Homo sapiens: one gene and its partners. The protein of the gene in region 2 purifies or fractionates together with the protein of the main gene of each other region. This does not show direct contact. Each region holds a gene or a part of one and is shown on either strand. Other genes may lie near its edges.

What was found.
Region 1: the proteins of RNF146 (region 2) and CHD1L purify together in Homo sapiens (co-immunoprecipitation; 5 studies listed by BioGRID and IntAct, with this or other methods). This does not show direct contact.
Region 3: the proteins of RNF146 (region 2) and LIG3 purify together in Homo sapiens (co-immunoprecipitation; 5 studies listed by BioGRID and IntAct, with this or other methods). This does not show direct contact.
Region 4: the proteins of RNF146 (region 2) and PARP2 purify together in Homo sapiens (affinity purification with mass spectrometry; 6 studies listed by BioGRID and IntAct, with this or other methods). This does not show direct contact.

Annotation. Positions count from the first base shown.
Region 1 is NC_000001.11:147,238,023-147,245,696, forward strand, and holds the start of CHD1L (chromodomain-helicase-DNA-binding protein 1-like), read left to right. Parts: upstream 1-4,661; 5' UTR 4,662-4,681; coding exon 4,682-4,808; intron 4,809-5,117; exon of another isoform or gene 5,118-5,168; intron 5,169-7,674. UniProt on the Homo sapiens protein: ATP-dependent chromatin remodeler that mediates chromatin-remodeling following DNA damage.
Region 2 is NC_000006.12:127,262,069-127,269,882, forward strand, and holds the start of RNF146 (E3 ubiquitin-protein ligase RNF146), read left to right. Parts: upstream 1-4,795; 5' UTR 4,796-4,857; exon of another isoform or gene 4,858-5,027; intron 5,028-7,814. UniProt on the Homo sapiens protein: E3 ubiquitin-protein ligase that specifically binds poly-ADP-ribosylated (PARsylated) proteins and mediates their ubiquitination and subsequent degradation. May regulate many important biological processes, such as cell survival and DNA damage response.
Region 3 is NC_000017.11:34,990,509-34,997,529, forward strand, and holds part of LIG3 (DNA ligase 3 isoform alpha precursor), read left to right. Parts: intron 1-454; coding exon 455-606; intron 607-1,162; coding exon 1,163-1,329; intron 1,330-1,449; coding exon 1,450-1,527; intron 1,528-2,015; coding exon 2,016-2,184; intron 2,185-3,767; coding exon 3,768-3,923; intron 3,924-5,555; coding exon 5,556-5,687; intron 5,688-6,065; coding exon 6,066-6,145; intron 6,146-7,021. UniProt on the Homo sapiens protein: Isoform 3 functions as a heterodimer with DNA-repair protein XRCC1 in the nucleus and can correct defective DNA strand-break repair and sister chromatid exchange following treatment with ionizing radiation and alkylating agents.
Region 4 is NC_000014.9:20,339,397-20,346,642, forward strand, and holds the start of PARP2 (poly [ADP-ribose] polymerase 2), read left to right. Parts: upstream 1-4,238; 5' UTR 4,239-4,245; coding exon 4,246-4,291; intron 4,292-5,535; coding exon 5,536-5,691; coding exon of another isoform or gene 5,692-5,730; intron 5,731-5,997; coding exon 5,998-6,068; intron 6,069-7,246. UniProt on the Homo sapiens protein: Poly-ADP-ribosyltransferase that mediates poly-ADP-ribosylation of proteins and plays a key role in DNA repair.

The DNA of each region.
Region 1 (7,674 bases), on a different chromosome or scaffold from region 2:
TACTTTTTTTCTATACTTCTATACTGTGGTATATTTTCCCTGGCTTTCTGGGTTCTAAATTTATTACATGTTATTTCATGACAAAGAGGTATACTGGCATCAAAAGTCAAAACACAGTTTTTCATTTCTTGCAAGAAAGAAAACCCAAGTTAAGTGTTTTTCATCCCAGCACAAAAATCTTCCACCCATGGGCACGGACCTAATTCTAACCTAAGCTCAAAGTTCCAAGTTCATTTACTCAAGAGGTCTGAATAAATGTTTACTTTGGTCACAGCTTTTATCCAATTTCCGTATCTGACTCACTAGGTGCTTCTAACTGGTGCCCTGATGTTACCTAACAGAGCAAGGATACAACAAACAGCAAACATAATTTGTTTCTTAATCTGTGCTTAATCCATGCTTGTTTTGGTAATGTCTGCACATGCTAAGTCCCACTGACAGTGTTAGTTGGTTAGCATTAATCTTATGGAGTTGCTGTTGCCAAAGGACATATCCTTTCTGTGGAGGAATAAAACAATTAACAAAAACAGCATGATTGTATAACCTGAACAATGAATGAAAAATGAGTTGAGGCTAAATTTTATTCTGGGAGTTAATCACGACTCACAGAAAACACTGGACCAGCTTCCTAAACTTTCTGTGCCTTGGTTTGCCCATCTGTGAAATGCACTCTCTGTACTTCAAAGTTATAACAATCATATGCCCTAGATTTTAAAATTGTTCCACAGGCACCTCATTCAAACATTCAACAATATTTATTGAGGGCATACTATTGTAATGCCTAACCTTGTTTTTACTAACCCTGTTTTTAGATTCTCTCTTTCCTTTAATCACCTAGCCTTGTTTCCACCTGAATTGACTGTCCCTTAGCTAAGAGAGCCAGACAGACTTCATCTTGGCTCTTTCACTGGCAGCCCCTTCCTCAAAGACATAACTTGTGCAAGCTGACTCCCAGAACATCCAAGAATTCAATTAACTGATAAAATACTGTGGCGAGCAATATCCGCAGTTCCCAGGAATTCGTCCAATTGATAACGCCCAAAGCCCCACGTCTATCAGTTTGTAAGAGTCTTAAAGCCCCTGCACCTAGAACTGTTTACTTTCTGGTAATCATTTATCCTTTTAACTTTCTGCCTACTTTACTTCTGGAAAATTGTTTTAACTAGACCCCCCCTCCCCTTTCTAAACCAAAGTATAAAAGAAAATCTAGCCCCTTCTTCAGGGCCAAGAGAACTTTGAGCGTTAGCCATCTCTCAGCCGCTGGCTAAATAAACAGACTCTTAATTCGTCTCAAAGTGTGGCGTTCTCTCTAACTCGCTCAAGTACAACACTATGTGCCCAGCACTGTTTGTACAAATCCAACACATCCCACCAGTTGCTCGGGCCACATCCCTGAACCCAACCTTTGCTTCTTCATTTCTCCCAGATGCTCAATCAGTGAATCCTATAGGCTCTATCTTTTCAATAGATCTAGTAGCAGACCACTACTCACCACTCCACTATCACCATGCTGGCCCCAAAACTATCAACTCTTGCCCAGACTACTGCAATAGTTTCCAAACTGCCTCCTTCCTTCCATCCTGATCATCTACAGATCTCTTCATACAGTATTCAGAGCAAAACTTTTCTATGTGTCACCTCACTGGCAGACCTGGAGTCTCTCAGCTACCTTTCTTAGCTGTATTTTAGGTACCAGACTTAGTATACCAACAGTCTACCTGGCTTATAGCTAGGACTCTATCATCTGGTATTCTGTTACAACAAATGTACTTTAAGTTAAAAATAATAAACAGGCTTATATTTAAGTGGCAAGTGCTTGATATGGCTGCTTTAGCAGATAAGTCTACTGGTAGAATCTAGAGGAGAGGAAATAAGTCATACATGGAGACCAAGATGCAAAAACCACTCATGAGCAGCCACATAGGACAGAGGTCCCTCTGGAGAAGCCACCAAAGGATATAAATCTCTCTTCAGGTTTGTTTTGAGAAAACACCCAAGCAGGAAAGCTGCTGTACAAAATTACTATTGCCCCATTATGCGATTGTGTTTTACTTTTGTCTTAGCATTAATCCTACCTTGTGGGGAAAAGAAAGAGAGCTCAGACTGCTACTGTGTCTGTGTAGAAAGAAGTAGAAATAAGAGACTCCATTTTGGTCTGTTCTAAGAAAAATTCTTCTGCCTTGAGATGCTGTTAATCTGTAACCCTACCCCCAACCCTGTGCTCCCTGAAACATGGGCTGTGTCCACTCAAGGTTAAATGGATTCAGGGCTGTGCAGGATGTGCTTTGTTAAACAAATGCTTGAAGGCAGCATGCTTGTTAAGAGTCCACTCCCTAATCTCAAGTACCCAGAGACACAATACACTGCGGAAGGCCGCAGGGACCTCTGCCTAGGAAAGCCAGTTATTGTCCAAGGTTTCTCCCCATGTGATAGCCTGAAATATGGCCTTGTGGGAAGGGAAAGACCTGACCGTCCCCCAGCCTGACACCCATAAAGGGTCTGTGCTGAGGAGGATTAGTAAAAGAGAAAGGAAGGCCTCTTTGCAGTTGAGATAAGAGGAAGGCATCTGTCTCCTGCTCATCCCTGGGCAATGGAATGTCTCGGTGTAAAACCCGATTGTATATTCCATTGACTGAGATAGGAGAAAACCACCTTAGGCCTGGAGGTGGGACATGTGGGCAGCAATACTGCTCTTTAAGGCATTGAGATGTTTATGTGTATGCACATCAAAAGCACAGGACTTTTTTCTTTACCTTGTTTATGATGCAGAGACATTTGTTCACATGTTTTCATGCTGACCGTCTCTCCACTATTACCCTATTGTCCTGCCACATCCCACTCTCTGAGAAATGCCCGATAATGATCAATAAATACTAAGGGAACTGAGGCTGGTGCCAGCGCAGGTCCTCTGTATGCTGAGCGCCGGTTCCCTGGGCCCACTTTTCTTTCTCTATACTTTGTCTCTGTGTCTCTTTTTTTTCTTAAGTCTCTCATTCCACCCGACGAGAAATACCCACAAGTGTGGAGGGGCAGGCCACCCCTTCACTACCTGATTTTTATTTATTGCTTGTCTCCTCCTTTTAAAATGTAAGATCCAGGAGATAAGTGGCCTCTATCTTCAGTACCATAGAGTGCTTGGCACATAGTATGTAATTCAGTCAGTGTCAGGCCTCTGAGCCCAAGCTAAGCCATCATATCCCCTGTGACCTGCACGTACACATCCAGATGGCTGGTTCCTGCCTTAACTGATGACATTCCACCACAAAAGAAGTTTAAATGGCCCGTCTTTGCCTTAAGTAATGACATTACCTTGTGAAAGTCCTTTTCCTGGTTCATCCTGGCTCAAAAAGCTCCCCTACCGAGCACCTTGTGACCTCTCACTCCTGCCCGCCACAGAACAAACCCCCTTTGACTGTAATTTTCCTTTACCTACCCAAATCTTATAAAACGACCCCACCCCTATCTCCCTTCGCTGACTCTTTTCGGACTCAGCCCACCTGCACCCAGGTGAAATAAACAGCTTTATTGCTCACACAAAGCCTGTTTGGTGGTCTCTTCACACGGACGCGCATGAAAGTCAGTATTTATGAATGACTCAAGACACAAAAATAGCTTCATAAAACAGTGCTTTGCTTGAGTTTTTATGAATAAACCAATCTGAAGTCATCCCTTTTCTAGCTCAGAACAAATTTCTCCCTTTTATTTTAGAGGAAGATGAGAATGGAGGGTACAAATTTAACATGAGTTTACTGAAGAAGGAAGCACCAAGATTAACCTAAATGAGAATACTATTCTAATGACATTAGCCAGAGAATAATATCGTTCCTGTTCCAGTACTGCCAATTACCATTACAAGTCCCAATATCTTCATTTACAATGTGGGGACAATTATAACACCTAATTATTGGTTATTGTGAAGGTTAAATAAGAAAATATACTTAAAGCCCTTAGGACACCACCCAGAACTTCATCAATAAATGCAGCTATTTTGTTATTATCATATTTATATTAGTGGTATACTACATCATAAATCCACTCAAAGCTGATGCTGAGTCACGGTGACCCCTAACTGAACACATTGCCTCAATCTGCTCCCCATAATGCACTTGAGATACCCACTGCCACAATGACGTCTTTGGTGATTTTAATTTACTACTATTCAGAGGTTCCCAATTTTGGCCTACAGGTCACAGGCAGTAAGAAAGGGATTTCAGGGACTAAATCAATTTATCACTAGGTAAACCGAACAAGAACAGTTTGATCTTATCGTGAATCACTGGAGGGCACGGAACAAGTCTTACTTCTAGAACCCCCAGGGCCCAGCGGAGTGTCTGACACATGATAGTCGATGTTGATTAAATAATAAATGAATGATGAACACATGCCACCTCCTTGACGGGCAGTTCAGGCAATCAGACGTCCTGTGCGTGATCAGACGCCTAGCGCTTCAGAAGCACGACTGGTGAGAACTGGGCAGCCCTTCCACGCTCCGCACTGCAAGAACTGCCTGTCCGGAAGGGTGACTGCACCAGCTCCGCTCCGGATATCTTGGCAGGACGCGCCCTCTGGCGGCGCCTCGCTCGTAGGTGGGCCCCAGCGCGCAGTCGCGCGCCCCCGCGCGTTGGGAAGTTGGGAGGGAGGTGCGCGCTTGGCCGCGCGGGGCGGGGCCTCTACCGGCCCGATGGAGCGCGCGGGCGCTACTAGCCGCGGGGGCCAAGCCCCTGGCTTCTTACTGCGGCTTCATACTGAGGGCCGAGCCGAGGCGGCGCGGGTGCAGGAGCAGGACTTACGGCAGTGGGGGCTGACAGGTGAGCGGGCTCCGGGCGGACTTCGGCCAGGCGGGCCAACCTATTGGGACTGCCTCTTGCGGGCCGGGGGCGCAGCGGGTGGGCCGCCCGGTGGGCAGTTTACCCGCTCGCGCCAGGGCCTTCCTTCGCTCCTGCCGTGGGCGGAGAGAAACTGCGCCCGGGCTTGGTGGCCACGGCCCCCGCCTGCGCGGCGCGCGGGGCCGGCGGACGCCAGATGAATGAGGTCGCGGGCCCGGTAGCCAGGCCTGGCCCCTGGCCTGTGGAGGGGAAACGTGGTGAGATCAGCGCCACCTGCAGGCCTCCGCTGAAGAGTTGGACGGCCTGGTGCACCAAGGATGTAGGTTTCCAGTTGCTGTTCCGGTGGGTTTGGGTCCCGGCCTGGGGAGTTTATTGGTTGCTTCTGTAAAACGATCAACTCATCTCCCAGCTTCAGCTTCTCCGTTTACTGTGCGCGCGCAGTTATTGGAGAATTCGCCACGGATTAATTCTCCGGATCGAGTTACGTGCGGTAGTGAGCGGACAAACTCAAGCAAAGCACTGTTTATGAAGCTATTTTTGTGTCTTGAGTCATTCATAAATACTGACTGAACCACGTACTATATGCCAACTTAGCTTGTCCGCTCACCACCGCACGTAACTCGATTTATTGACACTAGCCCTTACGGAGAGTCTGCAAAGCGCGAACCTTGCATGCCCCCCAGCCCTGCCGCTGCATGGCTGACCGTACTTCCTGCAGCTCCGAGACCCCGCTCTCCTCCTGGGTCTGCGCTGACTCGCCGCTGAACCGCCCCAGCCTCGTTTTCCTTACTTATAAGTTGGGAACGTAGTGTGTGCTTTGACTGTATTGACAGAATCATGCATCAGTAATAATACAGTCGTTTATTCATTACTTATTGAATGCTACTGGGAGCGTATTCTTAGGCATTGGCTACAAAGATGAGCAAAACAAATAGGGACCCTTCCTACCTAGAGTTTTAGACTAGTGAGAGTGCATTTAAAAGTATAAACTAATTTATTTAAGTGCTCAGTACCACGAAAGAGTAAGGTTTGTCATTCTAGGAATGAAACAAAAGGTGCAATTCTGTGTTCAGCTTAGAAGACTGAAAGATGAAGTTGAATGGAGAGGACGCTGACATGAAAGAGAAAGACCTCTCTCCTTGATTCCCTGAGTCTGTAAGAATGTGTGGCTGTAAGGAGTATGTATCCAGTTTTAAGTATGAGCTTGTAGACTGGTCTTTTTATGTTTGACTTTATCTTAACGAAAGTTTATGTTTGTGGGTTTGCCTATTTCCTTGCAAGTGTTGGGAATGGTTCTTTAAGAACTTGTGTGAGAGAGGGCTCAGAAAAGTGTGCCAGTTGATACTTAGCTGTGGATAATATGCCAGGAGAAACGTACATATGGGCAAGTGTTTTAGTGAAAATGAGGAGACAAGAGGTTGCAAGTTTGAGTGGATGGAATGGAGTGAGTAAATTCAGAATTAAGTAGGCAAATGTGGCAACTTGGATAAATTGGTAGTGGAGAAGGAAAATAGAAAAGCAGAGTCAAAGGAATGGCTACTGAATATTATAACTTGTAATTTCTATTTCTGTTTACCAGAATAAACTAGTGTTATGAGAAACTATTCTTCATGAGTTGGTTAAAAAAATTCTTACTACTTTTTTTTCGTTTGGTTACAGAAGTAGTACGTATTTTCAGTAAAACATTCAGGGAAATAGCCTATGCATAAAGAAAATAAATATTAATCTCCATAATCTCCTTACTGTTAACATGTTCTCTATCCTGTATAATTTCTTTTACTTTCTGGTGGAGGGGGAAGGTGAAAAATGGAGTTTCATGTACATTTTTTTGGGAAATCATAACTTTTTTTCCTTATCATTCAGTCTTCTTCAACATCATTCTTAATGGTTACAGTTTTTCAGTATATGGATGTACCATAGTTTAGACAGTCCCTCTTCTTGGTATTTAGGTTCTTTTTTTTGCTATTGTAAGTAACATAAATATCCTTGTAACCAAATATTTATTATAGGTATGGACGTTTAATTCCTGAAAGGTACCATTTCTAGAATAAAGAGTATGCAAAATTTTTGCTTATTTCTCTATACTCTCAGCAACACTGGTATTTTCTAATTTGAGAAGTTAATATGCTATCGTATTGTTTAATTTAATGTTTATTTGGTTACCAATATTGATGGACATTTGGATATTCATCTTTGGATCATGAAGTTACCTTAGGACCTTTTTGTTTCTGGAATATGCAGACCTATTACTTCTTGCTGTTTTGCTTGCTTTTTCACTACTTGTCATCTCCCTGACAGAAGGGCAAAAGAATCTACATCTGGAGGTTAAAAAGCTAAAGACTACCTTTCCCAGACCCCACTGTAGTTTGGTTGTAAACGTGACTTGGCTTTAGCCAGGCACGTGACTGGGAGATTTGGAAGGGGAAAGTGAGGGGAAGGACACAGAGGGGTTTGGATTTTCCGCTTCCCACTTAGCTACTACCTCATGGGTCTGTGGGAGGGTACAGAGCATTCATTTTGTTATCATGGATTGTGGCTGCGTTGATAGGTCCCTGGGGCTGACAGTACCGTGGCCTCCTGGTTGGTTCCTGGCTTCCAGGTCGTGGAGGTAGATACTTCCTTGGTGTGTCCATACTGTGGTGCTTGATTTAGCAGTTGTACCCAGAAGATCAGCCTAGATGTTACTCCTCCAGGCCTTTCGACAATTTTGTGGTGATCTAATTCCCTGTATTACATTCCTTTCTGCCTAACCTACCAAGGGTAATTTCTGGTTTTTGCTGTTGACTCCTAAGTGTTAAGTATTGTTATCTTTGTGGATATAATTACATATTATTTTTGAAAATTCAAC
Region 2 (7,814 bases):
AAAGTGCTCTAGCAGCCTCCAGGAGCTCCCAGAACACCCTTTGCTCCTCCAAACTTAGATGAGCCAGTGACTTTCTGCAGTTACTGATTTCAAGGTATCTTCATCTTTCTTTTTTGGTTCCTCCAGTTTTCTAACACTTTCACCACCATTTCACTACATTAGAGTCTCTGTCTGAAATACTTAAGGTGGTTTTTGTTTTCCAAAGAGAATCTTGCTTGACAAACTTCTGTGAAAATACTTCAAACTTTTAGGTTATAATTATATTAAACTGATACAGGAAAATGTGACATTGCAAAACATAGTTGCTGCCTTGATGACCTTAAGCAATTTCCTTTATGTGATGGAGTACATTGTTTAAGGGACTATTTTGTTAAAATAATAAGCTAGCTTAAAAAACCTCCACTGTTAAAATACAGCATTTATTCTTATCTTTTAATACTATGGTCAATGAAAGGTTATGTCATTTAATGAAACAAGCATGGACTTTGGAGACATCAGAGCTACTACTGTCAATATAAGACATCTAAAAATTAATAAATACATATTATATACATACAACCAGGTTAGGAAATAAATGCATCGTTGACTTTATAGTCAAACTATAAAGTTTAACTCAGTGACTCTTGGGGCTATTTTCTAGCCATACATTATCCTAATTCAGTTGTAATGTCTGTGGGCAACGCAGGAACATTAAGAACCATTAGAAGAGAAAGCATTGATAATCACAGTAGGTAAAAGAAAAACACAAGCTAAACTGGCTAGTGTACTATTATTTGCAAAGGAGTTCTACTAGAAAATAATATACTGTTTGATTACTGTAAGTAGAACATCAAATGATAGGACAGAAACCAACCTATGTATCAGCTCTGGAAACAAAGTTTTTAATTAAAATAAACAAAGTTTGCTTTCCAAAGCTTCCTCTTGGTTTGATTTCCATTCATCTGCTAGCTATAATGACTGGTACATTCCTGAATCTGGTTTGTTCTGTTTCCAGGCATATGAGAAAGTTGTGTCCACAGCTATCAGATGGTTGCCGGCATGTGAAAAGGGAAGAAATTTAACTTAGAGTTGGTAAGCAAAATAGCCCCAGACAAGCATTCTTATTTGGTCTCAGGACCCTTTGACAGTGCTAATTTATAGAAGACCCCAAAAAACTTTTATGAGCTAATCAATATTTACCAAATTAAAAGTTGAAATTGAGAATGGTTTACAATATATACTAATTCATTTAAAAATGACTCATTGTATTAACATACTTTATTAAAAAAAAAAACACTACATTTTCCAAAACAAAGCTAACTGAATGAAAGAAGAGTGCAGTTTTACTTTTTTTTTTTTTTTACATCGTTTTAATGACTGGTTTAATAGATATAGTCAAATTCTCATATCTGCTTCTATAATCAATCTATTGCTACATCACATACCATGTAGCTTCTGGAAAACTCCACTGTACATTTGAGAGTGCAAGTAAACAAAGCAACTAGAGTCTTAGTATTATTATAAGAACAATTTTCCCTCAGACACTCTGCAAGAGTCAAAGGACCCCTATGGGTCACTAGATAACACTTGGAACACCGCCGCCCTAAACTAGCCACGAGTGGTTTCAACGTACATTCTATTGTAACACATCATTTTCTCATGCATTTTCATGGATGTCTTCAGATATTAAGTAAACAAAAAAAAATGCTTTGATCCTTAAGTAAAACAAATAACATTGGACAATTTTTGAGTGTTGGAAGGATAAATGGAGAAGAGTAGGTGCCTGGAGATGTGTGGTATTCAGCAAAGTATTTTGTAAGTTGTGGGAAATAGACAATAAGCTATAAGCAAACAGGCAACTGGGTAATTCCTAGCAGTCAGCTGCAACTTCTTTACCTTTGATTCAATGAAGCAAAATGGAATCCCAGTGACAGTAACATTATTACAGAAATACATTGAAACTGTTAGGCTCTGATTTATTTAAGCAAATAATTTGAAGTTTTGGTACTTAAAATTACTGGAAACCAGTTACTCTTAATTACTGGAAACCAGCACTCTGACAATGTTGAGAGGTGCTGTCCTGTGTTATTCAAAGATATAAACTTCTATCTTTCTTTCAAGTGGCTGATGGAGGTAGGGTGTATAGTATTCCATGCATTCAATTCTGCTTTTCATATGCAACTACTGAAAAATGAGAAGTTCACTTTTATTCATATATATATACAAATGGGGATATATTCATATATATATATAAATGGAGATATATATATATTCATATATATATATAAATGGGGATATATATACACACTCACATACACAAATGTGGTTTTTGGGGTTTTTTTGAGACGGAGTCTTGCTCTGTTGCAGTGCAGGCTGGAGTGCAGTGACACGATCTCGGGCAACTTCCGCCTCCCAGGTTCAAGCGATTCTCCTGCCTCAGCCTCCCGAGTAGCTGGGATTACAGGCGCGTGCCACCATGCCCAGCTAATTTTTTTGTGTTTTTAGTAGAGACAGGGTTTCACTGTGTTAGCCACGGTGGTCTTGATCTACTGACCTCGTGATCCGCCCACTTCGGCCTCCTAAAGTCCTGGGATTACAGGCGTGAGCTACTGCCCGGCCATGTGTGTATTCATTCATTCATTCATTCATTTACTCATTCATGTAACACATATTTACAGAGAACCTCTTTAAGTGTGTCAGGCACTATTCCTGGCAGTTGAGATACAAAACAGAACACACATTCCTGGCCTCCTGTGTCTTGCGTCCTAATGTGATGAGAAATATGATGAAGATTAGTAAGTAAAATAAATTATCCATTACACTGTGATAAGTATTAAAAAGTAAAGGAGGAAATATGAAATATTGGGAATGGAAACATCATGACTTAAAATATGCTGACAAGTAGAGGGACTGACTGAAGAGTTGGACATCTGAGCACATATGGAGGGAGCATGATGGGGAAGAGTGTTCTAAGCAGAGGAAACCACAACTGCAAAGACTATGAGGTTGGCAGCTTGTGGAGAGCTTTCTGGGAATACAAAGCTGGGTAAACAGTCTGTGGGGTCAAAGAGGTAATGAGGGGAGGATTTTAAAGCCATCGTTAGGACTTTGGTTTTTACTTGTGTTGGGAAGCCACAGGAGACTTTGAGCAAAGGAGTGGTACGATCTCACTTCTTTTTAAGTAGATTTATTTAGGATTCTGTATTAAGGATAGAGTCAAAAGACTAGTTCCTGGTCTACCGTAACACTATAATCCAAACAAGAGATGATGCAGATTGTAGCGGAGGTGGTAAGTAGTTGGATATACTTTGAAGGAAGAGCCAACAGGTTATATGCCAAATGCATATAAGACATAAAAGAGAGGAGTTAAAGGTGGGTTTGAACAAGGAAAGATGCAACCATTTACTGAAATACAAAGACCTTGGGTATGAGTGAGAAGGGGTTGAACTAGCTGACATCTTACAGTCTGTGCCTGGATTCAAATCTCAGCTGTGTGTGTCTCTCTCTCTGTAAAATGGGAATAATAATAGTGCCTACCTCATAGTTTATTATGAGAATTAAGTGGGTATATATGAATAAAGCACTTAGAGCAACACCTGGCACATTGTTAGTTAATATTAGCATTACCTCTTCAAGCTGGAATCTTCGAGTACATATCAAATTTTAGCTATTCTCTGTTCATGGGCTGTGTAGGATAGAGGGACAAAACTGAGTGGCTAATAAGAAGATAAAGATAGAAAACTAAGCTTAAAGTTAAAGGATATACACTTCAATATTTCTACATGTATGGAACAGTATTGCATACACGCGCAAGCATCACTGAACTAGATGCACCCTTCAAGAGATTGGGTTACATATTGATATATATGAATGAGAACCCTGAAATAAACTGATTTCAGAGGAATAACAGAAAACATATACATTTCTATACCTATAAGGACACTGAAAACTTCCAATCCTGAATCAAACAGTTAATGAAATCCCAAAATGCAACACTAATGCAAATGAGAAGACGCTGTCATAGAATGTTGAAATACATACTCTTCTAAAGATAAAAGGTCTGCTCTTCCACCCTCTTCATTTTCCTACAAATTAGGAAAATTTAATCAGTTCTGAAAAAGGAAATGTACATGCTAAAATGGTGAATTACTGCTAGAGTTCTGATGTTTAAAACCACAGGCTTGCGATCAAAATAACCTCTTTAATTTTAGATTATCATGCAGATTAATTTCTTCAGTTTCTCAGGCACTATTCTGTTTTTTTTAAAAAAAGGGTGGGGTTTCAAAAGAAAACTAATACTCATTTTTTCCCCGATTAAATTGCTCAACCATTAAAAAGGAGAACAAATTGGAAAGTCCTACAGTACTCTCTCCCCTCCGTCCCCCCCCTCCCCATTTTTTTTCTTGAAAGGGAACAAGCAGTACTTTTGCTAAGGGATCTTTAAGCCGAAACTCAGCTAGGCGCCCCAGAGCTTCCTCAGGATAGCAAAGCTGGATTTTTGAGCAGCACCACCTGCTGGTCCTACACACGTTTTACTTCCTCCACCCCAAATCTCTTTCTGTTGGAACTGCACTCTTTCAGAGCCTCTGGGCCCTAATACAAAGCAAGCACACTCTAAAGAAGCCAGAAGAATGCAAGCAGCGAAGTCGCCGCTCCCCACAGGCAAGAGAGTACCGGCAGACAGCGGCGCGAGACAGGGGCAGAACGATGAGGCGCCGGAGTTAGCTCGCCGGTGCGGGTGCGGGTGCGCGGCGCGTCGCGGCCCCTCCTCCGCGACGCGCCGGGTGGTCACGTGACGGCCGCGCGCGTTCCCGGCAGCTGCGGGCTCCGAGGCCAGAGAGAAAAGACTGCGAGGTGGCCGCAGCTGTGGCCGGAGAGGTGGGAGTCGGAGCGAGGCCCTCTCGGGGGAGCAGGGTGAACGCCGGCCACTCTAGGATCCTCACTCGGGGAGAGGAGGCATAGCTCGCGGTGTCACCTCCAGCCGCAACGTACTCCGGGTCGGCCTTGCGCTCGGGGCCTGAGAGGGGCGGCGGCGGGGTCAGGGGCCGGTACGTAGATGGACGCCCTTGGGCTGGCGCGGCCCCGGCTGTCCGCGCAGAGGCGGGATGGGACAGTTCAGCCCTTTCCGCCACCCCCGCCTTGGCTGCTGGGGCAGGCAAGACGACCGTGACAGCCCCTGCGCTGCCCGAGGGCGCCGCAGCCCCTGCCCTGGGTGACGGCCGGAGCTGGTCTCGGTCCGGGTGCGAGGGGCGGAGCAGCGGCCATTACTGCGCAGCCTCTTCCGCCTGAGCCCGCTTCGCTGCCTCGGGTGGCAGGCGGGTCCCTCTCCTCCCCTCTGGGCCGTGGTTTTAGGCCTTTACCCGGGGACCTTCTGGCCTCGAGGTGTAGGGGCGGCGATGGTTTTTCGGCGGTAGCCTGCTCCATGTTTTCCCGTGTGGGGTCAGACAGTTTGGGCCTTGGGTCAGATCGAAGCCAGGGCGTACAGTCTGCATTTTTGCCTTTTCCCGGAGTGTCTCTGGCTGCTGCTTTCTCTTCTCTCGCTCTTCCTCCTTTTTTTTCTCCTGCTCAGTGTCTCGGTCTTGCCTAAAACGAAGAGAGCAATCCCTGCACCTTGTCCTAGTGAAGCCCAGCGCTGCATATTCTTAGTTGTTTTTGACGGCTGTTGAAGCATCGGAACAATTAAGAGATCTCAGAATATCCCTTGAGCCTCCAAACCCTCTGCATCTTAAAAGCTGAGGCTGTTGCTTTGTTCTGATTGTTGGGTGGGGAGTTCTCTTCCTACCCTCCATCCCGTCTGAAGGAGTGTGGGTCTTCCATTGTTGTCGCTATTTATTTTGCTAAGGCTTCTAAAGAATGTAAAATTGTTTTAAGAGTGGAGACGGAACCGTCCTCTCCACAGGTAAAACCTACAGGACTGTAAGTTTACACACACATCCTGGCAACTAGAATCTTTTCTCGTTAATCATATTGGTATATGTTTTAATTTATTTTCTCTAAGTGCCATTTTAGTGAGCACTTATTTCTCAAGTTTTGAACATTTTGTTTAATATTTTTGTAATATCGAAACAGTGTAGAACTGAGGAGAGAAGAAAGCCCAAAGATGATAGGGTACGCTTTGTTCTTTGTATGATTGGCATTTCAGGTAGTGGGCACATCCCCCCCACCTCGTGTGTGTACTTTTCAAATGGGATGTGAACGTATAATATTGGCATTCAATCCAGTATATAATTATAGAATTTGGAAGACTTAGGACATTTTAGTCAGTGAATCTATATTTAGACTTTTCAAAGACATGGCACGTAAGGACACGTGGAGAAAATGTCCCACACAGATAACAGGATTTGTGATTTTGGCTTTGCTGTTTTATGATTAGCAAATATTGTTTGTATAGAGTGTCTGGGTGCCCTAAAAACACATGAAAATAGGTCAACTAAATCTCGTTTTAAAGAGAAAACCGGAAGAGTGAACACCACTCTAAAAATAGATTTTGGATGTGTTTGTTTTGGTGCCTTGTATATCTTAAAGTGGAGGATGTTGTTCAGCCCAATCTTTCATTTAGAATTTATGTCTCAAATGAGCCAGTGTATCATGTGGGCAGACTGGAAATACATTTAAATATTTTTTTTCTTCGCTGGTTGTTCAGAACTTGGTAGAATTATAATTATCAGGAAAACTCTCTCCAAATAGCTGGTCTTTTAGACAAGAGAAGAAAAAAGAAATAACTTCTTTTAAAAGGAGATGTCAACTTACAAAGTGTTTTGTTTCAGTCTCCACCAACCTAACTTGTCAGAGGAAAGGAACAGACTTTTTTTTTTAAAGGATCCAAAACGATATTTTGAGTCAAAAGAAGAAAAGGATATTAAATCTTTTGTTTTCACAATATCGATCTTTTTAAAGAATATTATTTTATATGTTAACCATATACTACCAGGAAACATCTAACAGCACTGACAGTTGGGAATTCGAATGCGTATTTTTCTCCCGTGTTAGTAATAGAAGGTACTGAGCCTTTTCCATTCTCTTGGTTGCCTTGTGCCTGAGGAATCTGAATTTGTGAAACAACATCTTTGTGGATATAGAAACTAATTTATGTAACACTTGGCTACAACCACCTGTGCTTACTTACGGACTATCTTTAGTTTTCATGGCGTGTTACCTTTTGGGTTAATTCAAATCCAAAATGTTGTTAACGGACTGCTAATTAAAGCATTTAGAACTTAGAATTACAGAATTATAGAGTAGGATGAGATAACAAAAGACTGGGGGTTATGACTTGACCAAGGTCACACAGATAATTTGCCAAAGAGCTTTCTTATTTATGAAATGGTTGCTGGCTAAGAAACATCTGTGTGTGATATGATTAAAAGACAATATTCGTTCACTTTTACATCTCATGTTTTGAAATAAAATGCAAAGCTCACTTTTTTGTTGTTTTGAGAAAAATTAAAGGGTTTAATGGGCTAGTATAAAGATTGTGAAGGCAGTAAGTAGACTGCCACATAGTAACGTCTTAAAGGGAAATAATTCTTTAAAGTATCAGACCCCATTTAGTTGAAATGAGTTTTGTCTGAAGTTTCCAAGTATGACCTATGCTTTTTCTTAGCTAATTTTTAGCAGGAGATGATGAGGGCTAAAAATTGAGACATTAGGGCATTTAGTTACATCTCTCAATTTGTGACTGGTTTATAAAAAATACTAAGATGTGTCTGCTAACTCACACCTGATTTATCTACTCCTTTTATGTATATATAATTTTTTTTGAGTTGTGTACCAAAAGTTGGAACATTTCAAGTATTTTTTCTTTCTGTCACTGAGTGATTTCATGTAGAACATTT
Region 3 (7,021 bases), on a different chromosome or scaffold from region 2:
GATTCAATTAATCTGCCTACCTCAACCTGCTAAAGTGCTGGGATCACAGGCGTGAGCCACCATGCGCGGTCTGAGTTTATTTTTTTATTTATTTTTGTGTGTGTGTGTGAGACAGTGTCTTGCTCTGTCGCCCAGGCTGGAGTACAGTGGTGTGATCACAGCTCACTATAGCCTCGACCTCCTGAGCTAAAGCAACCCTCCTGTCTTCTCCTGCAAGTAGCTGGAACCATAGGCATATGCCACCATGTCCAGCTAATTTTTTAATTTTTTGTAGAGATGGGGTCTTTCTTTGTTGCCAGGGTGGTCTCAAACTTGTGAGCTTAAGCAATTCTCCTGCTTCGGCCTCCCAAAGTGCTGAGATTACAGGTGTGAGCCACCTTGCCCAGCCTTCTTTGAGTTTATATATTTATTTGTTTAAGCTCTATTTCTCAAGAAGGGTTCCTTCTGTCTCCAGATGGTTTCCACGGTGATGTGTACCTAACAGTGAAGCTGCTGCTGCCAGGAGTCATTAAGACTGTTTACAACTTGAACGATAAGCAGATTGTGAAGCTTTTCAGTCGCATTTTTAACTGCAACCCAGATGATATGGCACGGGACCTAGAGCAGGTCAGAGGAACGGGAGGGAGGGTAGGCTACATTCCAGGTGGGGTTTTGCCAAGCCAGGCACCTGCAGCCTCTTTTTTTTTTTCTGGTTGGGACACATACTGTTTTAGGAAACTGAAACCCATTTGAGCAAGCTTCCGTTATAGGGGGAGCTGAATGTGAGGCTATAGCTCTTAATTTCTTAAGTTTCTGAGGGTGGAAACCATACAACTGCTGAACCACAAAGGCCTGGTTCTCAAAAGGCAGAATTTGAGACTTGCCCCCTCTGTCTCTCCTGGGGCTTTTATTCTGGACTCTTTTTTTCTTGCTTGTTTTCTCCTATAACTTGGCTTTACCAAGCTTTGGTTTGTCCGTGACTCTATCCCTGGTACCATGGCAAGTTTCCATCCCCTTCTAGGAATTGTGGATGGGCTAGTGTCTCTAAGAAGTGGGCTAGATATGTTGAGTTGGGATAGGAGCTATGATTGAAATTTCTTGATTCATCTTCAGTCCTGGGTCTTGGGGGATACACTTGGCCACCCTAGGGTTGCAGCAGTGGCATTTTGGTTTTTGGAGACAGGGTGACGTGTCAGAGACAATCAGAGTCTTCTTTGAGCAGAGCAAGTCTTTCCCCCCAGCTGCCAAGAGCCTCCTTACCATCCAGGAAGTGGATGAGTTCCTTCTGCGGCTGTCCAAGCTCACCAAGGAGGATGAGCAGCAACAGGCCCTACAGGACATTGCCTCCAGGTGGGGGAGCTGCCTCCGTCAAACCATGCCCATAGAGAGATGAACTCTCTTGGGAAGGGAAGGTTCCCTTGGGGTTCCAGAGCTCTTCAAGACCAAGTTAAATGTGCTTCATCCCCCTAGGTGTACAGCCAATGACCTTAAATGCATCATCAGGTTGATCAAACATGATCTGAAGATGAACTCAGGTGCAAAACATGTGTAAGTAGCAGCTCCGCTGACAGCCTGAGCTGTCATTTGTTAGCTTTGTTTGTTCCCAACTGGTGTCAGGACTTTTGAGTCCCAGTCAGGATTTGAATCCCCCTTCCACCTTCTTACTTTCTGTGAGACCCTGATCTGTCACTTGACCTGTCTCTGCCTCCATTTTTTCCCATATAAAATGGAGATAACAGTACCTTTCTCACAGAGTTCTTACAGTTGAAGTGTGGCATACGTTCAGTGAGTATAGTATGAGTCTCTTGCCTACTCCAGCCCCCTCCTCGCTAAGGCGGCATCCACATAGGCACAGTATCTCAAAAGAGCTGAATTTTCCAAGAGCTTTCTCTCCTCTTGTGAAAGTCTTTAGACAATAGAACACAACCCCTTCCCTACAGATGAGGATTTCTTCTGTGAGGACAGATTGCTGTCCAAAGCCATGGAGTCAAACAAAGGCAGTGGTTTTGTTTCCTTGTTCCTGTACCCCTTGGCAGGTTAGACGCCCTTGACCCCAATGCCTATGAAGCCTTCAAAGCCTCGCGCAACCTGCAGGATGTGGTGGAGCGGGTCCTTCACAACGCGCAGGAGGTGGAGAAGGAGCCGGGCCAGAGACGAGCTCTGAGCGTCCAGGCCTCGCTGATGACACCTGTGCAGCCCATGTTGGTGAGGAGTGCTCCCCTGCCTCTGCTTTCCAGCCTCTCCAAGCTCCACATCCTTTGGGCTGAGATCAGATAGGGTATGAGTGTTGAGAGCACTTGCAAATTGACTGGAGAAGTTTAGGGAAGGAAGAGGGAGGTGCAAGGGGGTATTTCTCTGTAGGAGGCGAAGGCAAAGGAGAAGACAGAGGATCTAGTGGAAAGACCTGAGTTGTAGGCCCAGCTACGCCACCAAGATGCTGTAGAATCTTAGATGAGTGACTTGCCTCTCTTGTCCTTCAGTCTCCTGTGTGGATGACGTCTGAGACTGCCTGAGGCATCCCCCTAGAATGATTTATCTGTTATCTTACCTGAAGACGGATGTATTAAGTAACCCCTGAGATTCTGTGACCTACTGCAAAGTAGATCTGAGAGTTGGTAGCAGAGCCAGGCTTCCTGTGACAGGGTGACTTGGGAAGAGGGAGGACACATAAGGAATGAAGGCTGACTCTGACAGACATCATCTTAGGCCTCTGCTCATTTCGTAAGAAATGGGGTTTCCTTTCCAGTGTTGGTTTTCCTGTGTGACAGGGCCCACCACATATGGTGCCATGCCTACTGTGAGATTCTTTGGATTTTTGAGTGATGTACAGTGCTTTTTTTGAAACTGTCTTGTTTGTCATACTAAAACCTTGGTTTAGGGTTTTATGTTTGAGATAGGCAAGTGTTCTCTCCCTGCTAGGAATGTGGGATAGCCAGCATCAAAACAGTGAGATCTCCATCCCAGAGATGGGACTGCGGCCACCTGCAGTAGTGGCCTTTCTGACTTTTATAAAAATGCCTCCTGGAGTCTGTTCTATAGTTTGTCATTTAAAGACTGGCATGGGTTATATAGCTTAGTGGTTAACCACACAGGTTTTATAGGTGGGCCTAGATTCAAATCTCATTCTTGCCATTTTTTAGTGTAACTTAAGCAAGCACCTATTCTCTCTAACCTTCAGTTTTATCATCCAAAAATGAAAACAATATTTGTCACATAGGATGTCACATCGGGGATGAAATGAGATTATGTATGTGAAGCGCTCCCAAAATGGTAGCTATTGTTGTTTGAGTTAGGCTAGCACAGGTAGGCATGTAAGTAGGTGCTCCAATATCTGGAAACCCTGTTTGTTGTAGGGACCCACGATCACTCACCCTGCCAGCCTCACTGTCACCTGCACTCTTTAACCTTAGCTTCACATACCTCTTTTACTGGGAGAACTGATGTGTTTTATAATAAGCCAGAGGTCTTGCAAGGCCTGAATTATTGAGAAAAGAATTAAATCTTGTTTCACTGGGCTTTTACTTGTTGTACAATGAATAGCATTCATATTCCTCAAAAGGCAAGCTCCTATGTCAGCTCAGGTGATTATTTCATAGGCAGAATACAACATTGCCCAGCCCTTTCCGTTCCCATCACCTCTTCACCAGCCTTCCCTGAGCGTTAATTGTGGGCAGTCAGTCCCAAGACCCAGGTAACTACCCTCACTAACCCAGTTGCAAGGTCTCTGGCTGTCGCTGCTTAGCAGCCCCTCATTGAAAGTCTCCAGGCTTTGCTTTCCCCACCCCAAGGCGGAGGCCTGCAAGTCCGTTGAGTATGCAATGAAGAAATGTCCCAATGGCATGTTCTCTGAGATCAAGTACGATGGAGAGCGAGTCCAGGTGCATAAGAATGGAGACCACTTCAGCTACTTCAGCCGCAGTCTCAAGCCCGTCCTTCCTCACAAGGTATGAGTGCCTTCCTTTCTGCCAGGACCGTCTTTCCCCTTTCTGCCTCTAACAACCTCAGGGCCAGAGTCCCATAGCCATTCCAGCTGTGGTACACAATAAGGGTTTGTTTTTTATTTGTTGAATGAATTAATTCATTTATTCATTTTTGGAGTCTTCCCATAATGAAGGGCTGCTCAGCAGGGAGAGCCAAAGAGCCCTGACTTGGGTTCGTGAGGATAGAGCTCCCTGGAACAGTGATACTTCTTTTGCCCACAGTGATATTGGGACAGTGAGCTCAGTTGGTGAGTTGCTGTGTGTCTTTTGTGTTTCCATGTCCCAGATGCTTCCTGTGAGCTAGACTAAGGCTTATATACCAGGGGCTATTGGGCTGTCATTCATTAATTTGTTCAACAATTATTTATCAGATGCTTACCCATTGTTACAGCTGGTGGGGATATAGCAGTGGAAAAAATGGACAAAAGTTCTGGCCACCATGAAGTTTACATTCTGATGTAAACACAGTCTTATGGGGACATCTAGGAGCCTAGATTCCTGTTCTAATCAGGGGTGGCATTTGGAACCTTATTCCTTAGCCCTTCTCCACTCCCAAGGATACTGTGAGCCTTTGGGAGTGTCTTCAGGGAAAAGCAGCTGGAACATCTGGCTCCGGTAGCTTGTGAGCAGATGGAATTCCTATCTTTGCTATCCTTTTCTTTCCTAACTCAGACTCAGTTTTTCAGAGCCTCAGGGGGTTCAGGGGAACATGTTGTGTGGCCTGTGCTTACCTCAGCCTTGCCTTCCTGCTGGAGCATTGGGAACAAAGCAGTCAGGCCATTTGTTTCATATGTTCAAGAGGAAGGCTAAGCAGTGGCCTCATTGTGGAGCTTTAATGCAGGTTCACGTGTTCTGTGAAGCACTGCAAATCACTCAGGAGCTGTTTCTGGTGAGGTTGGTGTTAAATAGACACCATCTGTGACCCAGGAAGAAGTCTGAGCACACTTTTCCAGATTTAGTCCTTTCCTTAATTTTCCCTTACCCAGTATTCACTCATCCTTTGCCTCTCCTGTGATTTGGGTTCTTAAAGGGCTAGGTTAGGGATTGAAGGGGAATGGCATGGATGTGCTGGCCTTTCCTGTTCCTGCTCTAAGCATCCTGGGTAGTGATGGCTGTGGGTTCAGGGCTCCCACTCAGAGAAGACACTGCTCAAGTTTCCTTGCTGCACCTGAGGGAGTTCATTTCTACCTTTCTGGTTTCAAGTAGTCTGTTCTCCCCTAATCCAGTCCCCAGCCTGATAGTCACACATCTTCTGCAGTAGGCACTAATCTCTGCCCACCTACCCTCCTCCTCCTCCCCCGACAGGTTTAATCTGTTTCTTCCATTTTCCTCAAAAATTGTACCTTCTCTACAGCCCATAGAAAGTGACCCAGCATGGGTTGACCTCTTCCTGGGCCCGGACAGAAGTACTGAAACAGATGGCCTCTCCCTCTTGTCCAGGTGGCTCGCAAGGCCTAGCTATATGTTTTGCACATTAGCTGGGCCTTCCACATGTTGTTCTATATCCTGTCTGGGCCCGGGCTTTGCCCTCCATGGCATGGTTTGAGGTCCCTGCTGCCATGTCATCCCTCACCAAAGCTCCCCTTCTGCTTTCAGGTGGCCCACTTTAAGGACTACATTCCCCAGGCTTTTCCTGGGGGCCACAGCATGATCTTGGATTCTGAAGTGCTTCTGATTGACAACAAGACAGGCAAACCACTGCCCTTTGGGACTCTGGGAGTACACAAGGTACTAGCTCAGGGCCATATGTGCAAGAATGAATGAGTGTGAGTGAGTATGTACATGTGGGTGCACGCTGCGGTCTGAAAAGGGAGGAAATATCCCTTAGTGTGGCCCTTATTCTTCGCTTCTGACCTGTTTCTGGTTTGGATTTTTGTCTTTTGTTTTTCTCCTAAAAAGGGGCTGGTATTGGGAACCAGTTTATAACTGGGTTGGTTTCCATTTAGCACTATCTGCTCAGTGCCCTTATGGCCCAGGGGCTTCAGAGCAGAAATAGTACTTTTTCATCCGGTGCCTCAGGGGGCCTCCAGAAGTGGACTGGTACTCCTTATTTTTTCACACTGACTTTTGTCCTATGTGTACCTACTACCTCATTTTCCCTTACAGAAAGCAGCCTTCCAGGATGCTAATGTCTGCCTGTTTGTTTTTGATTGTATCTACTTTAATGATGTCAGCTTGATGGACAGGTGAGTTGGCTAGCATCTTTAAACCCAGAAACTGCCAGGAATCTGTTTTCATTTCCTGGGTGAGGAAGATGGGGGCTTCAGGTTGGAAAGGAGGGTACAGGGAACCAGCTGGCACATACGTTTGTGCTCAGGAGCTTGCCAAAGGCAATGGCAAGAGGGAGCTGAGAGGAAGCACAATTGCTACATGATCAGTTCCCCATTCAGTGTAAGAAAGAGCCCATGTGTTGACTCCATCTCTTCTCTGAGAGCTTAAGTCACAGAAGAAACCCAAACCCCCAAAGAAGTTTCTCTACTAAAGCAAAATGGACTATTGCAGAGAAATAGACTGTGAGCATATGGGGTTTCAGTTTATTTCTCCAATGGCACCCCTAGGGGCTCCAGTGGCACCCCTGGGGGCATAAGGCAGATGGTTTTCAGCTCAGAGGTTTTGATTTCAGAAGAGACTGACAACAGGAAGCTCCGGATTATAGGGGAGGCCATGGGTGGGACCATCTTGGAGAGAATTAGCAGTCTTGACTTAGCTGCATCCATATGCTTGTGCCTGAGAAACCAGTATCAGCCCTTTCCTCACTTAGAAATGTATCTCTACCCCTGTTCCTCCTGCAACAGCCACATCCTTGATTGGGGAAGGAGAAGGAAGTAGAGAGGGAAGGAATTGGTGGGGGTAGGATTTGGGGTTTGGGTCCCAAGGCCTGTCTCAGCCTGCCTACCCCGGGGTTGGCCTTGGGATCGGGGCAAAGCAGGGTGCAGGGGATAAAAAATGAGAGTTGGAGTCGTATTTCAAGTGGGACCAGAATTTATACAATCTGGGCTACAGGCCAGTTCTCCCTTGGCTCGCTTGATGAAGTAGAACTAGGAACTACAACTATGAACTGG
Region 4 (7,246 bases), on a different chromosome or scaffold from region 2:
ATTTTTTAGACAGGGTCTTACCCTATTGCCCACACTGGAGTGAAGCAGGGGAATTGCTTGAAACCCGGAGGCAGAGGTTGCAGTGAGCTGAGATCACACCACTGCACTCCATCTGTAAAAATAAAGTAATTCTAGATAACGTGATGTCTTATCAGAAAATACTATAGCATGCTTTTTTTAAAGAACTTTTTTTTTCCTTTTGAGAAAGGGTCTTACTCTATCACCCAGGCTGGAGTACAGTGGCATGATCACAGCTCACAGCAGCCTTGACCTCTCAGGCTCAAGTGATAAATTATACAGCTAATTTTTGCACTTTTTGTAGAGTCGGGTTTCGCCATGTTGACCAGGCTGGTCTTGAACTCCTGGGCTCAAGCAATCCTCCTGCCTGAAGTTCTGACTGCTGAGATTACAGGCATGAGCCCCCACACCTACCCTAAAGGACATTTTAAAATCATAACTAGAATATCATTATTTTAAACCTAACTAGAATACCATTATAATATCTAATAAATAATTCCCTAAAATCATCCAATTTCCAGTCCATATCCACATATCCCCATTTATTGCTGGCTTGTTCAAACCAGCATCCAAACATTGCATTTGGCTGTTAGGCTTCAAATGTCTCTTTTACTCTAAAACAGTCCTAACAATTTTTTTTTTACATAATAGTATGAAGAGAGTAGGCCAGTTGTCCTGTCGAATATTAATTTGTATTTTTCATACTATGTGAGCCTGAATATCTTTTCCATGCACTTATTTATCAAATGCAAACTGTTTATTAATATCTTTCATCCACTTATCTATAGAGGTTTTGGTTTTAATTATGAAAATAAATTTGTTGGTTTCTTCCAGGCTTTTTTTGTTTTTGTTTTTCAGACAGAGTCTCGCTCTCGTCACCTAGGCTGGAGTGCAGTGGTGCGATCTTGGCTCACTGCAACCTCCGCCTCCCCAGTTCAAGCTTCTCCTGCCTCAGCCTCCTGAGTAGCTAGGATTACAGGCACCCACCACCATGCCCAGCTAATTTTGTGCTAGAGAGGGGGTTTCACCATGTTGGCCAGGCTGGTCTCGAACTCCTCACCTCAGGTGATCCGCCTGCCTTGGCCTCCCAAAGAGGTGGGATTACAGGCATGAGCCACCGCACCCAGCCGGTTTCTTCCAGTTATTGGTGACATGCTTCAGTACTATTTTAGTTACACTTGTTCTGTATTTGACTATAAAGAAGTTATATCTTCACAATATATTTTCAGTAATTCTCACTCTGACCACCATAATAACTAAAAAAGAAAAAGAATCAATAAAAACTTTAAAAATACATTTTTAAAAATGTGTGTGGGATGGTAACTACTGTCATGAAACAGAATACATTAGCCTAGTAGATAACAACATAATTTGGAGTCACCCAGATCTGGCCCTGCCTTTTAGGAACTGTATATTATGAGCTGAATTGTGTCACCTCAAAATGTATGTATTTGAAGAACTCTCATTATCTCAGAATCTGCCTGTATTTGGAGATAGGACATGTAAAGGGGTAATTAAGATAAAATAAGGTCATACGGGTTGGGAATAATCCAATATCACTGATGTCCTTATAAGAAAAGGAGATTAAGGGCCAGGCACCGTGGCTCACGCCTATAATCCCAGCATTTTGGGAGGCTGAGGCGGGTGGATCACTTGAGGTCAGGAGTTTGAGACCAGCCTGGCCAACATGGTGAAACCCTGTCTCTAATAAAAATACAAAAATTAGCCAGGTGTGGTAGCCCACGCCTATAGTCCCAGCTACTCAGGGGACTGAGGCAGGAGAATCGCTCAAGAACCTGGGAGGTGGAGGTTGCAGTGAGCCGAGATCTTGCCACTGCACTCCAGCCTGGGCAACAGAGCAAGACTCTGTCTCAAAAAATAAATAAATAAATAAAATAAAGGAGATTAGGACATAGATGCACAGAGAGGAAAGACAGCATCCATCTACAAGCCAAGGAGAGAGGGAGGCAGGCCTTAGAAGAAATCAGCCATGTCAAGACCTTTACCTTGGGCCTCTAGCCGCCAGAATTACGACAATGTATGTAGTTATAGCAGCCCTAGCAATACACTGTGTGATCTTGAATAAATTAAATTTTTCTAAAGCTCAGTTTCCTCAACTATAAATGGAGATAATAACATATGCCTCATGAGGTTGTTGTGAGAATTAAATAATGTATGTAAAGCTCATAGCATAGTAAGAACTAAATAAATTCTGGCTATTATTCTTATGAAGATTAAATGAGGTTATGCATGTAAAGCATTAGCTCAGCCTCTAGTACACAAGAAAGTTCTACTAAGTATTAGCTATTTTTAATAAATTTTCATTTCATAAAGGCTTATATTTTTCCTATCTCCAAAGTATTTCCTTTTAGACCTAGTCTAATTTATTTGTGTCATAATTAAGTCAGATGTAACAGGCTTTGTACCGCTGAAACAGGTTAAGCAATCCTATCCAACAACATTTATTGAGCACTTACATTTTGTTAGATTTATTTCCAACTACTTGATATGCTTTGGTGTTATTGTAAATGCTACCTTATCCAAAAATTTTATTTATAGTTGTTTGAAGCTCTTTTATAAGCATGGAATTTATTTTCACACGCTATTTTCTATCAGTCTTGCTAGGCTTTGTATTAAGGTAAAATTTTTATCCTGTAGTTTCTTCTAGCTTTTAAAATATTCATAATCAAATTACATGCAAATAATGAGATTTTGGGTTTTTTCTTTCTAAACTTTACATCTTTTGATGAACAAAAATTAAAATGTATCAATTTTTTTTTCTTTGTTTTTTTCAGACGGAGTCTCACTCTGTCACCCAGGCTGGAGTTCAGTGGCGGGATCTCGGCTCACTGCAACCTCCGCCTCCCGGGTTCAAGCGACTCTCGTGCCTCAGCCTCCCAAGTAGCTGGGATTACAGGCGCCCGCGACCACGCCTGGCTAATTTTTCACTTTTTTTTTTTTTTTTTTTGTAATAGAGACGAGGTTTCGCTATTTTGCTCAGGTTGCTCTATAACAGATACTATGCTATCCTAACAATATGTTTCTAAATGATATTAGTGCCAAAACCAGGATTACCCAGTGATTTTGTTAATACAGGCTTATTGAATCGGAGGGTCTGGGGTGGGGAATTTGCTTAAGTATGCAGTCCCCATACTCGGTGATTCTCATGAAGCCAAACATTTGGGCGCCCCTCACCTGATGTCACCAAGAACCAGAAGACCAATTAGAATTTTCGTGGGCTTCCTGCCCCATGGTTCCCTCTGTTCCCAAAGGGTTTCTGCAGTTTCACGGAGCTTTTCACATTCCACTCGGTTTTTTTTTTTTTGAGACTCGCTCTGTCGCCCAGGCTGGAATGCAGTGGCGCGATCTCGGCTCACTGCAAGCTCCGCCTCCCGGGTTCACGCCATTCTGCTTCAGCCTCCCAAGTAGCTGGGATTATAGGCGCCCGCCACCACGCCCGGCTAATGGCTAATTTTTTGTATTTTTTTTTTTTAGTAGAGATGGGGGGGGGTTTCACCGTGTTAGCCTGGATGGTCTCGACCTCCTGACCTTGTGATCCGCCCGCCTCGGCCTCCCAAAGTGCTGGGATTATAGGCGTGAACCACCGCGCCCGGCCCGGTTTCGTTTTGTTTTTTTTTTTTTTTTTTTTTTCCAAAAATGGGCGGAGGAGAGTAGTCTGAATTGGGTTATGAGGTCCCCTGCGGGGTACCTCACCTCAGCCATTGAACTCACTTCGCTGGCCGTGAGTCTGTTCCAAGCTCCGGCAAAGGAGGCATCCGCCGGGCCCCTCCCCGAAGGGCGGGGTCCACGGCATCTCCTGCCCAGTCTGACCTCGCGCGGAGCCCCGTTCTCTGGGAACTCACCTCCCCGAAGCTCAGGGAGAGCCCTGTTAGGGCCGCCTCTGGCCCTAGTCTCAGACCTTCCCAAGGGACATGGGAGTGGAGTGACAGGACGCACTCAGCTCGTGGCCCCACTGATGAGCTTCCCTCCGCCCTATGGGAAAAAGTGGTCTCATACAGAACTTATAAGATTCCCAAATCCAAAGACATTTCACGTTTATGGTGATTTCCCAGAACACATAGCGACATGCAAATATTGCAGGGCGCCACTCCCCTGTCCCTCACAGCCATCTTCCTGCCAGGGCGCACGCGCGCTGGGTGTTCCCGCCTAGTGACACTGGGCCCGCGATTCCTTGGAGCGGGTTGATGACGTCAGCGTTCGAATTCCATGGCGGCGCGGCGGCGACGGAGCACCGGCGGCGGCAGGGCGAGAGGTTCGGAGCTCAATATCGCGGGACGGCATGCGGGGGGCGGGCAGTCAGAAAGGAACGATGCCACCTACTGTGACCCCCTTCCCCTTCCAGCTCCCTATAACCTGCACTTGGCTACCAAACCAGTTGGGGTGCTAAATTTTGTAAATTTCGGTTTTCAGAGCTTTGGGGATTACATAATTGTGCATAAAGCCTTGCGGAGCTGTAACAACTAATGTGCCAGTACTGTTGTTAATACCTAATGTCATCCAATTTACAAAAAGTAATTGTAAGGCACACCATTATTTTATACACAACAAAGGATAAGCACTGAAAATGGTGAACTGTGATTCACTGCTTATGTCATCCATTGTAAGATGCATCCCAGTTCCAGAGAGTAAAATGCGAGTCTTAGACCTATTGAGATACGGTATTATGTGTATAATGTTCTTAAATGCATAGGTGCACCCTATAAATTAGGTTCTATTGTACTTCTCTAGAAGTACAGTATTGTACAATATTCTAATATTGGAGTAAGTGAAGTAGGAAGAGATCAAATACTTCTCCAAGTTTCCACAGAGAAAAGCAGCAGAGCTAGGCTCTAAATTAGGCACAGACCCTTGAGCACTTAACTAACCTTTATCCCATACGGCCTCATGTATGAGGTGGGTATTTGGGGGACATTGGGACACAAGTAAAACAGATAAGCAGGCCTCAATCTATGAGCTTACAAGACTCCTGGGACTCCCTTTTATTTTGTTTTATTTCATTTGGCTAGAATAGCAATTTAGGAAGAATTACACAGACTGTTACACAAAAGTAGTGTGGGACAGTTGTTATTGCCTCTGTAAACTTAGAAAATTATCTTAAACCGGCGGGGTGAGGTGGCTCACGCCTGTAATCCCTTGGGAGGCCGAGGAGGGCAGATCACTTGAGGTCACGAGTTCGAGACCAGCCTGGCCAACATGGTGAAACCCTGTCTCTACTAAAAATACAAAAATTAACTGGGCATGGTGGTGCACGCCTGTAATCCCAGCTACTCAGGAGGCTGAGGCACGAGAATCACTTGAACCCAGGAGGCGGAGGTTGCAGTGAGCCAAGATCGCACCACTGCAGTCCAGCCTGGGCGAGAGAGTGAGACTCCACCTCAAAACAAAAAAAGAGAGAAAATTATCTTAAACCATTTCTTTAAAAGATTTTTTTCAATCTTTAAAATCTACACGTATTCGGGTGTGTACTCATTCTTTGCTAATTTCCAAATTCTGTAGCATTAAATGAAAGCAAAAGAGTTAATAATGGCAACACGGCTCCAGAAGACTCTTCCCCTGCCAAGAAAACTCGTAGATGCCAGAGACAGGAGTCGAAAAAGATGCCTGTGGCTGGAGGAAAAGCTAATAAGGACAGGACAGAAGACAAGCAAGATGGTATGCCAGGAAGGTCATGGGCCAGCAAAAGGGTCTCTGGTAGGAGTGGATCTGGGGATGATATCTTGTTATTTCAACTCCTATTTCGTCCTTCTTTCAGGGAATAATTAATTTCTCTATCCTTTGGGCATACCACAGCACTAATCTACTGCCTTGAATCTTCATTTTCATGTATTTGAGATGGATTGGGGTCTAAGGAAAGACCAGGATTGGTTGGGCGGGCAAAGTTAATCCTGACAAGTTTCTGTTTTACCACAACAGCTGTTTTTGATTCCCATAAAGTAGTACCTATCTGTCTTTCCTCAGAATCTGTGAAGGCCTTGCTGTTAAAGGGCAAAGCTCCTGTGGACCCAGAGTGTACAGCCAAGGTGGGGAAGGTAAGAGACTCTGGAACCGATCTTCAGTCCATGGATATCTCAGAGAGCATCCTTTGTTATAAGGACTCCTGTCTGGGATGCTGTTAGTACTCATTTTAGGAATCCTCTCCAAAATATGATGAGTGAGTAGTTTTCTCTAATGGCAAGAGATAGGAGTGGTAGGGCTTGGGGTTAATAATCAGGGTGTTTTTTAACATGGTGTGTTAGACCATTCTTGCATTGCTGTAAAGAAATACCTGAGACTAGGTATTTTATAAGAAAAGAGGTTCCTAGAGGCTGTACAGGAAGCATAGCAGTATCTGCTCCTCAGGAGACCTTAGGAAACTTTTACTCATGGCAGAAGGTGAAGCGGGAATAGGCACGTCACATGGCAAAAGCAGGGGAGAGAGAGAGAGACAGAGAGAAAGGGAGAGAGAGAGATTGGAGAAGGTGTCACAGAGAGAGAAAGAGAGAATGGGGAGGTGTCACACGCTTTTAAACTACCAAATCTTGTGTGAATTCACTCACTATCAAGAGGACAGCAGCAAGACAGTGGTGCTAAACCATTCATGAGAAATCCACTTCCATGATTGAATCACTTCCCACCAGGCCCCACCTCCAGTACTGAGGATTACAATTCAGCATGAGATTTGGAAGGAGACAAATATACAAACTATATCACATGCGTACCTTTTGTGGTTGCCATCAGCCTTCTACACCTCATTCTCTTTTTAAACCAGAAAATGGTATCATTGTTAAGGGAAAACTGTTTTCTTGTTCTAATGAGAAACTGTACCCTGGAATGGCATGAGTTACTGATGAATGGGGAAAAAAGAAGGCTACCTCTGGAATAAGTTTTCTTTAACTCAGTTAGAATCTTTTTTTTTTTTTTTTTTTTTTTTGAGATAGAGTCTCACTCGGTCACCCAGGCTGGAGTGCAGTGGTGTGATCTCAGCTCACTGCATCCTCCACTTCCTAGGTTCAAGTAATTCTCTTGCCTCAGCCTCCCAAGTAGCTGTGATTACAGGTGCCCACCACCACGCCCAGCCTGGGCTAATTTTTATATTTTTAGTAGAGACGGGGCTTCACCATGTTGGCCAAGCTGGTCTCGAATGCCTGACCTCAAGTGATCTGCCCACCTTAGCCTCCCGAAATGCTGGGATTGCAGGCATGAGCCACCATGCGCAGCCTAACTCAGA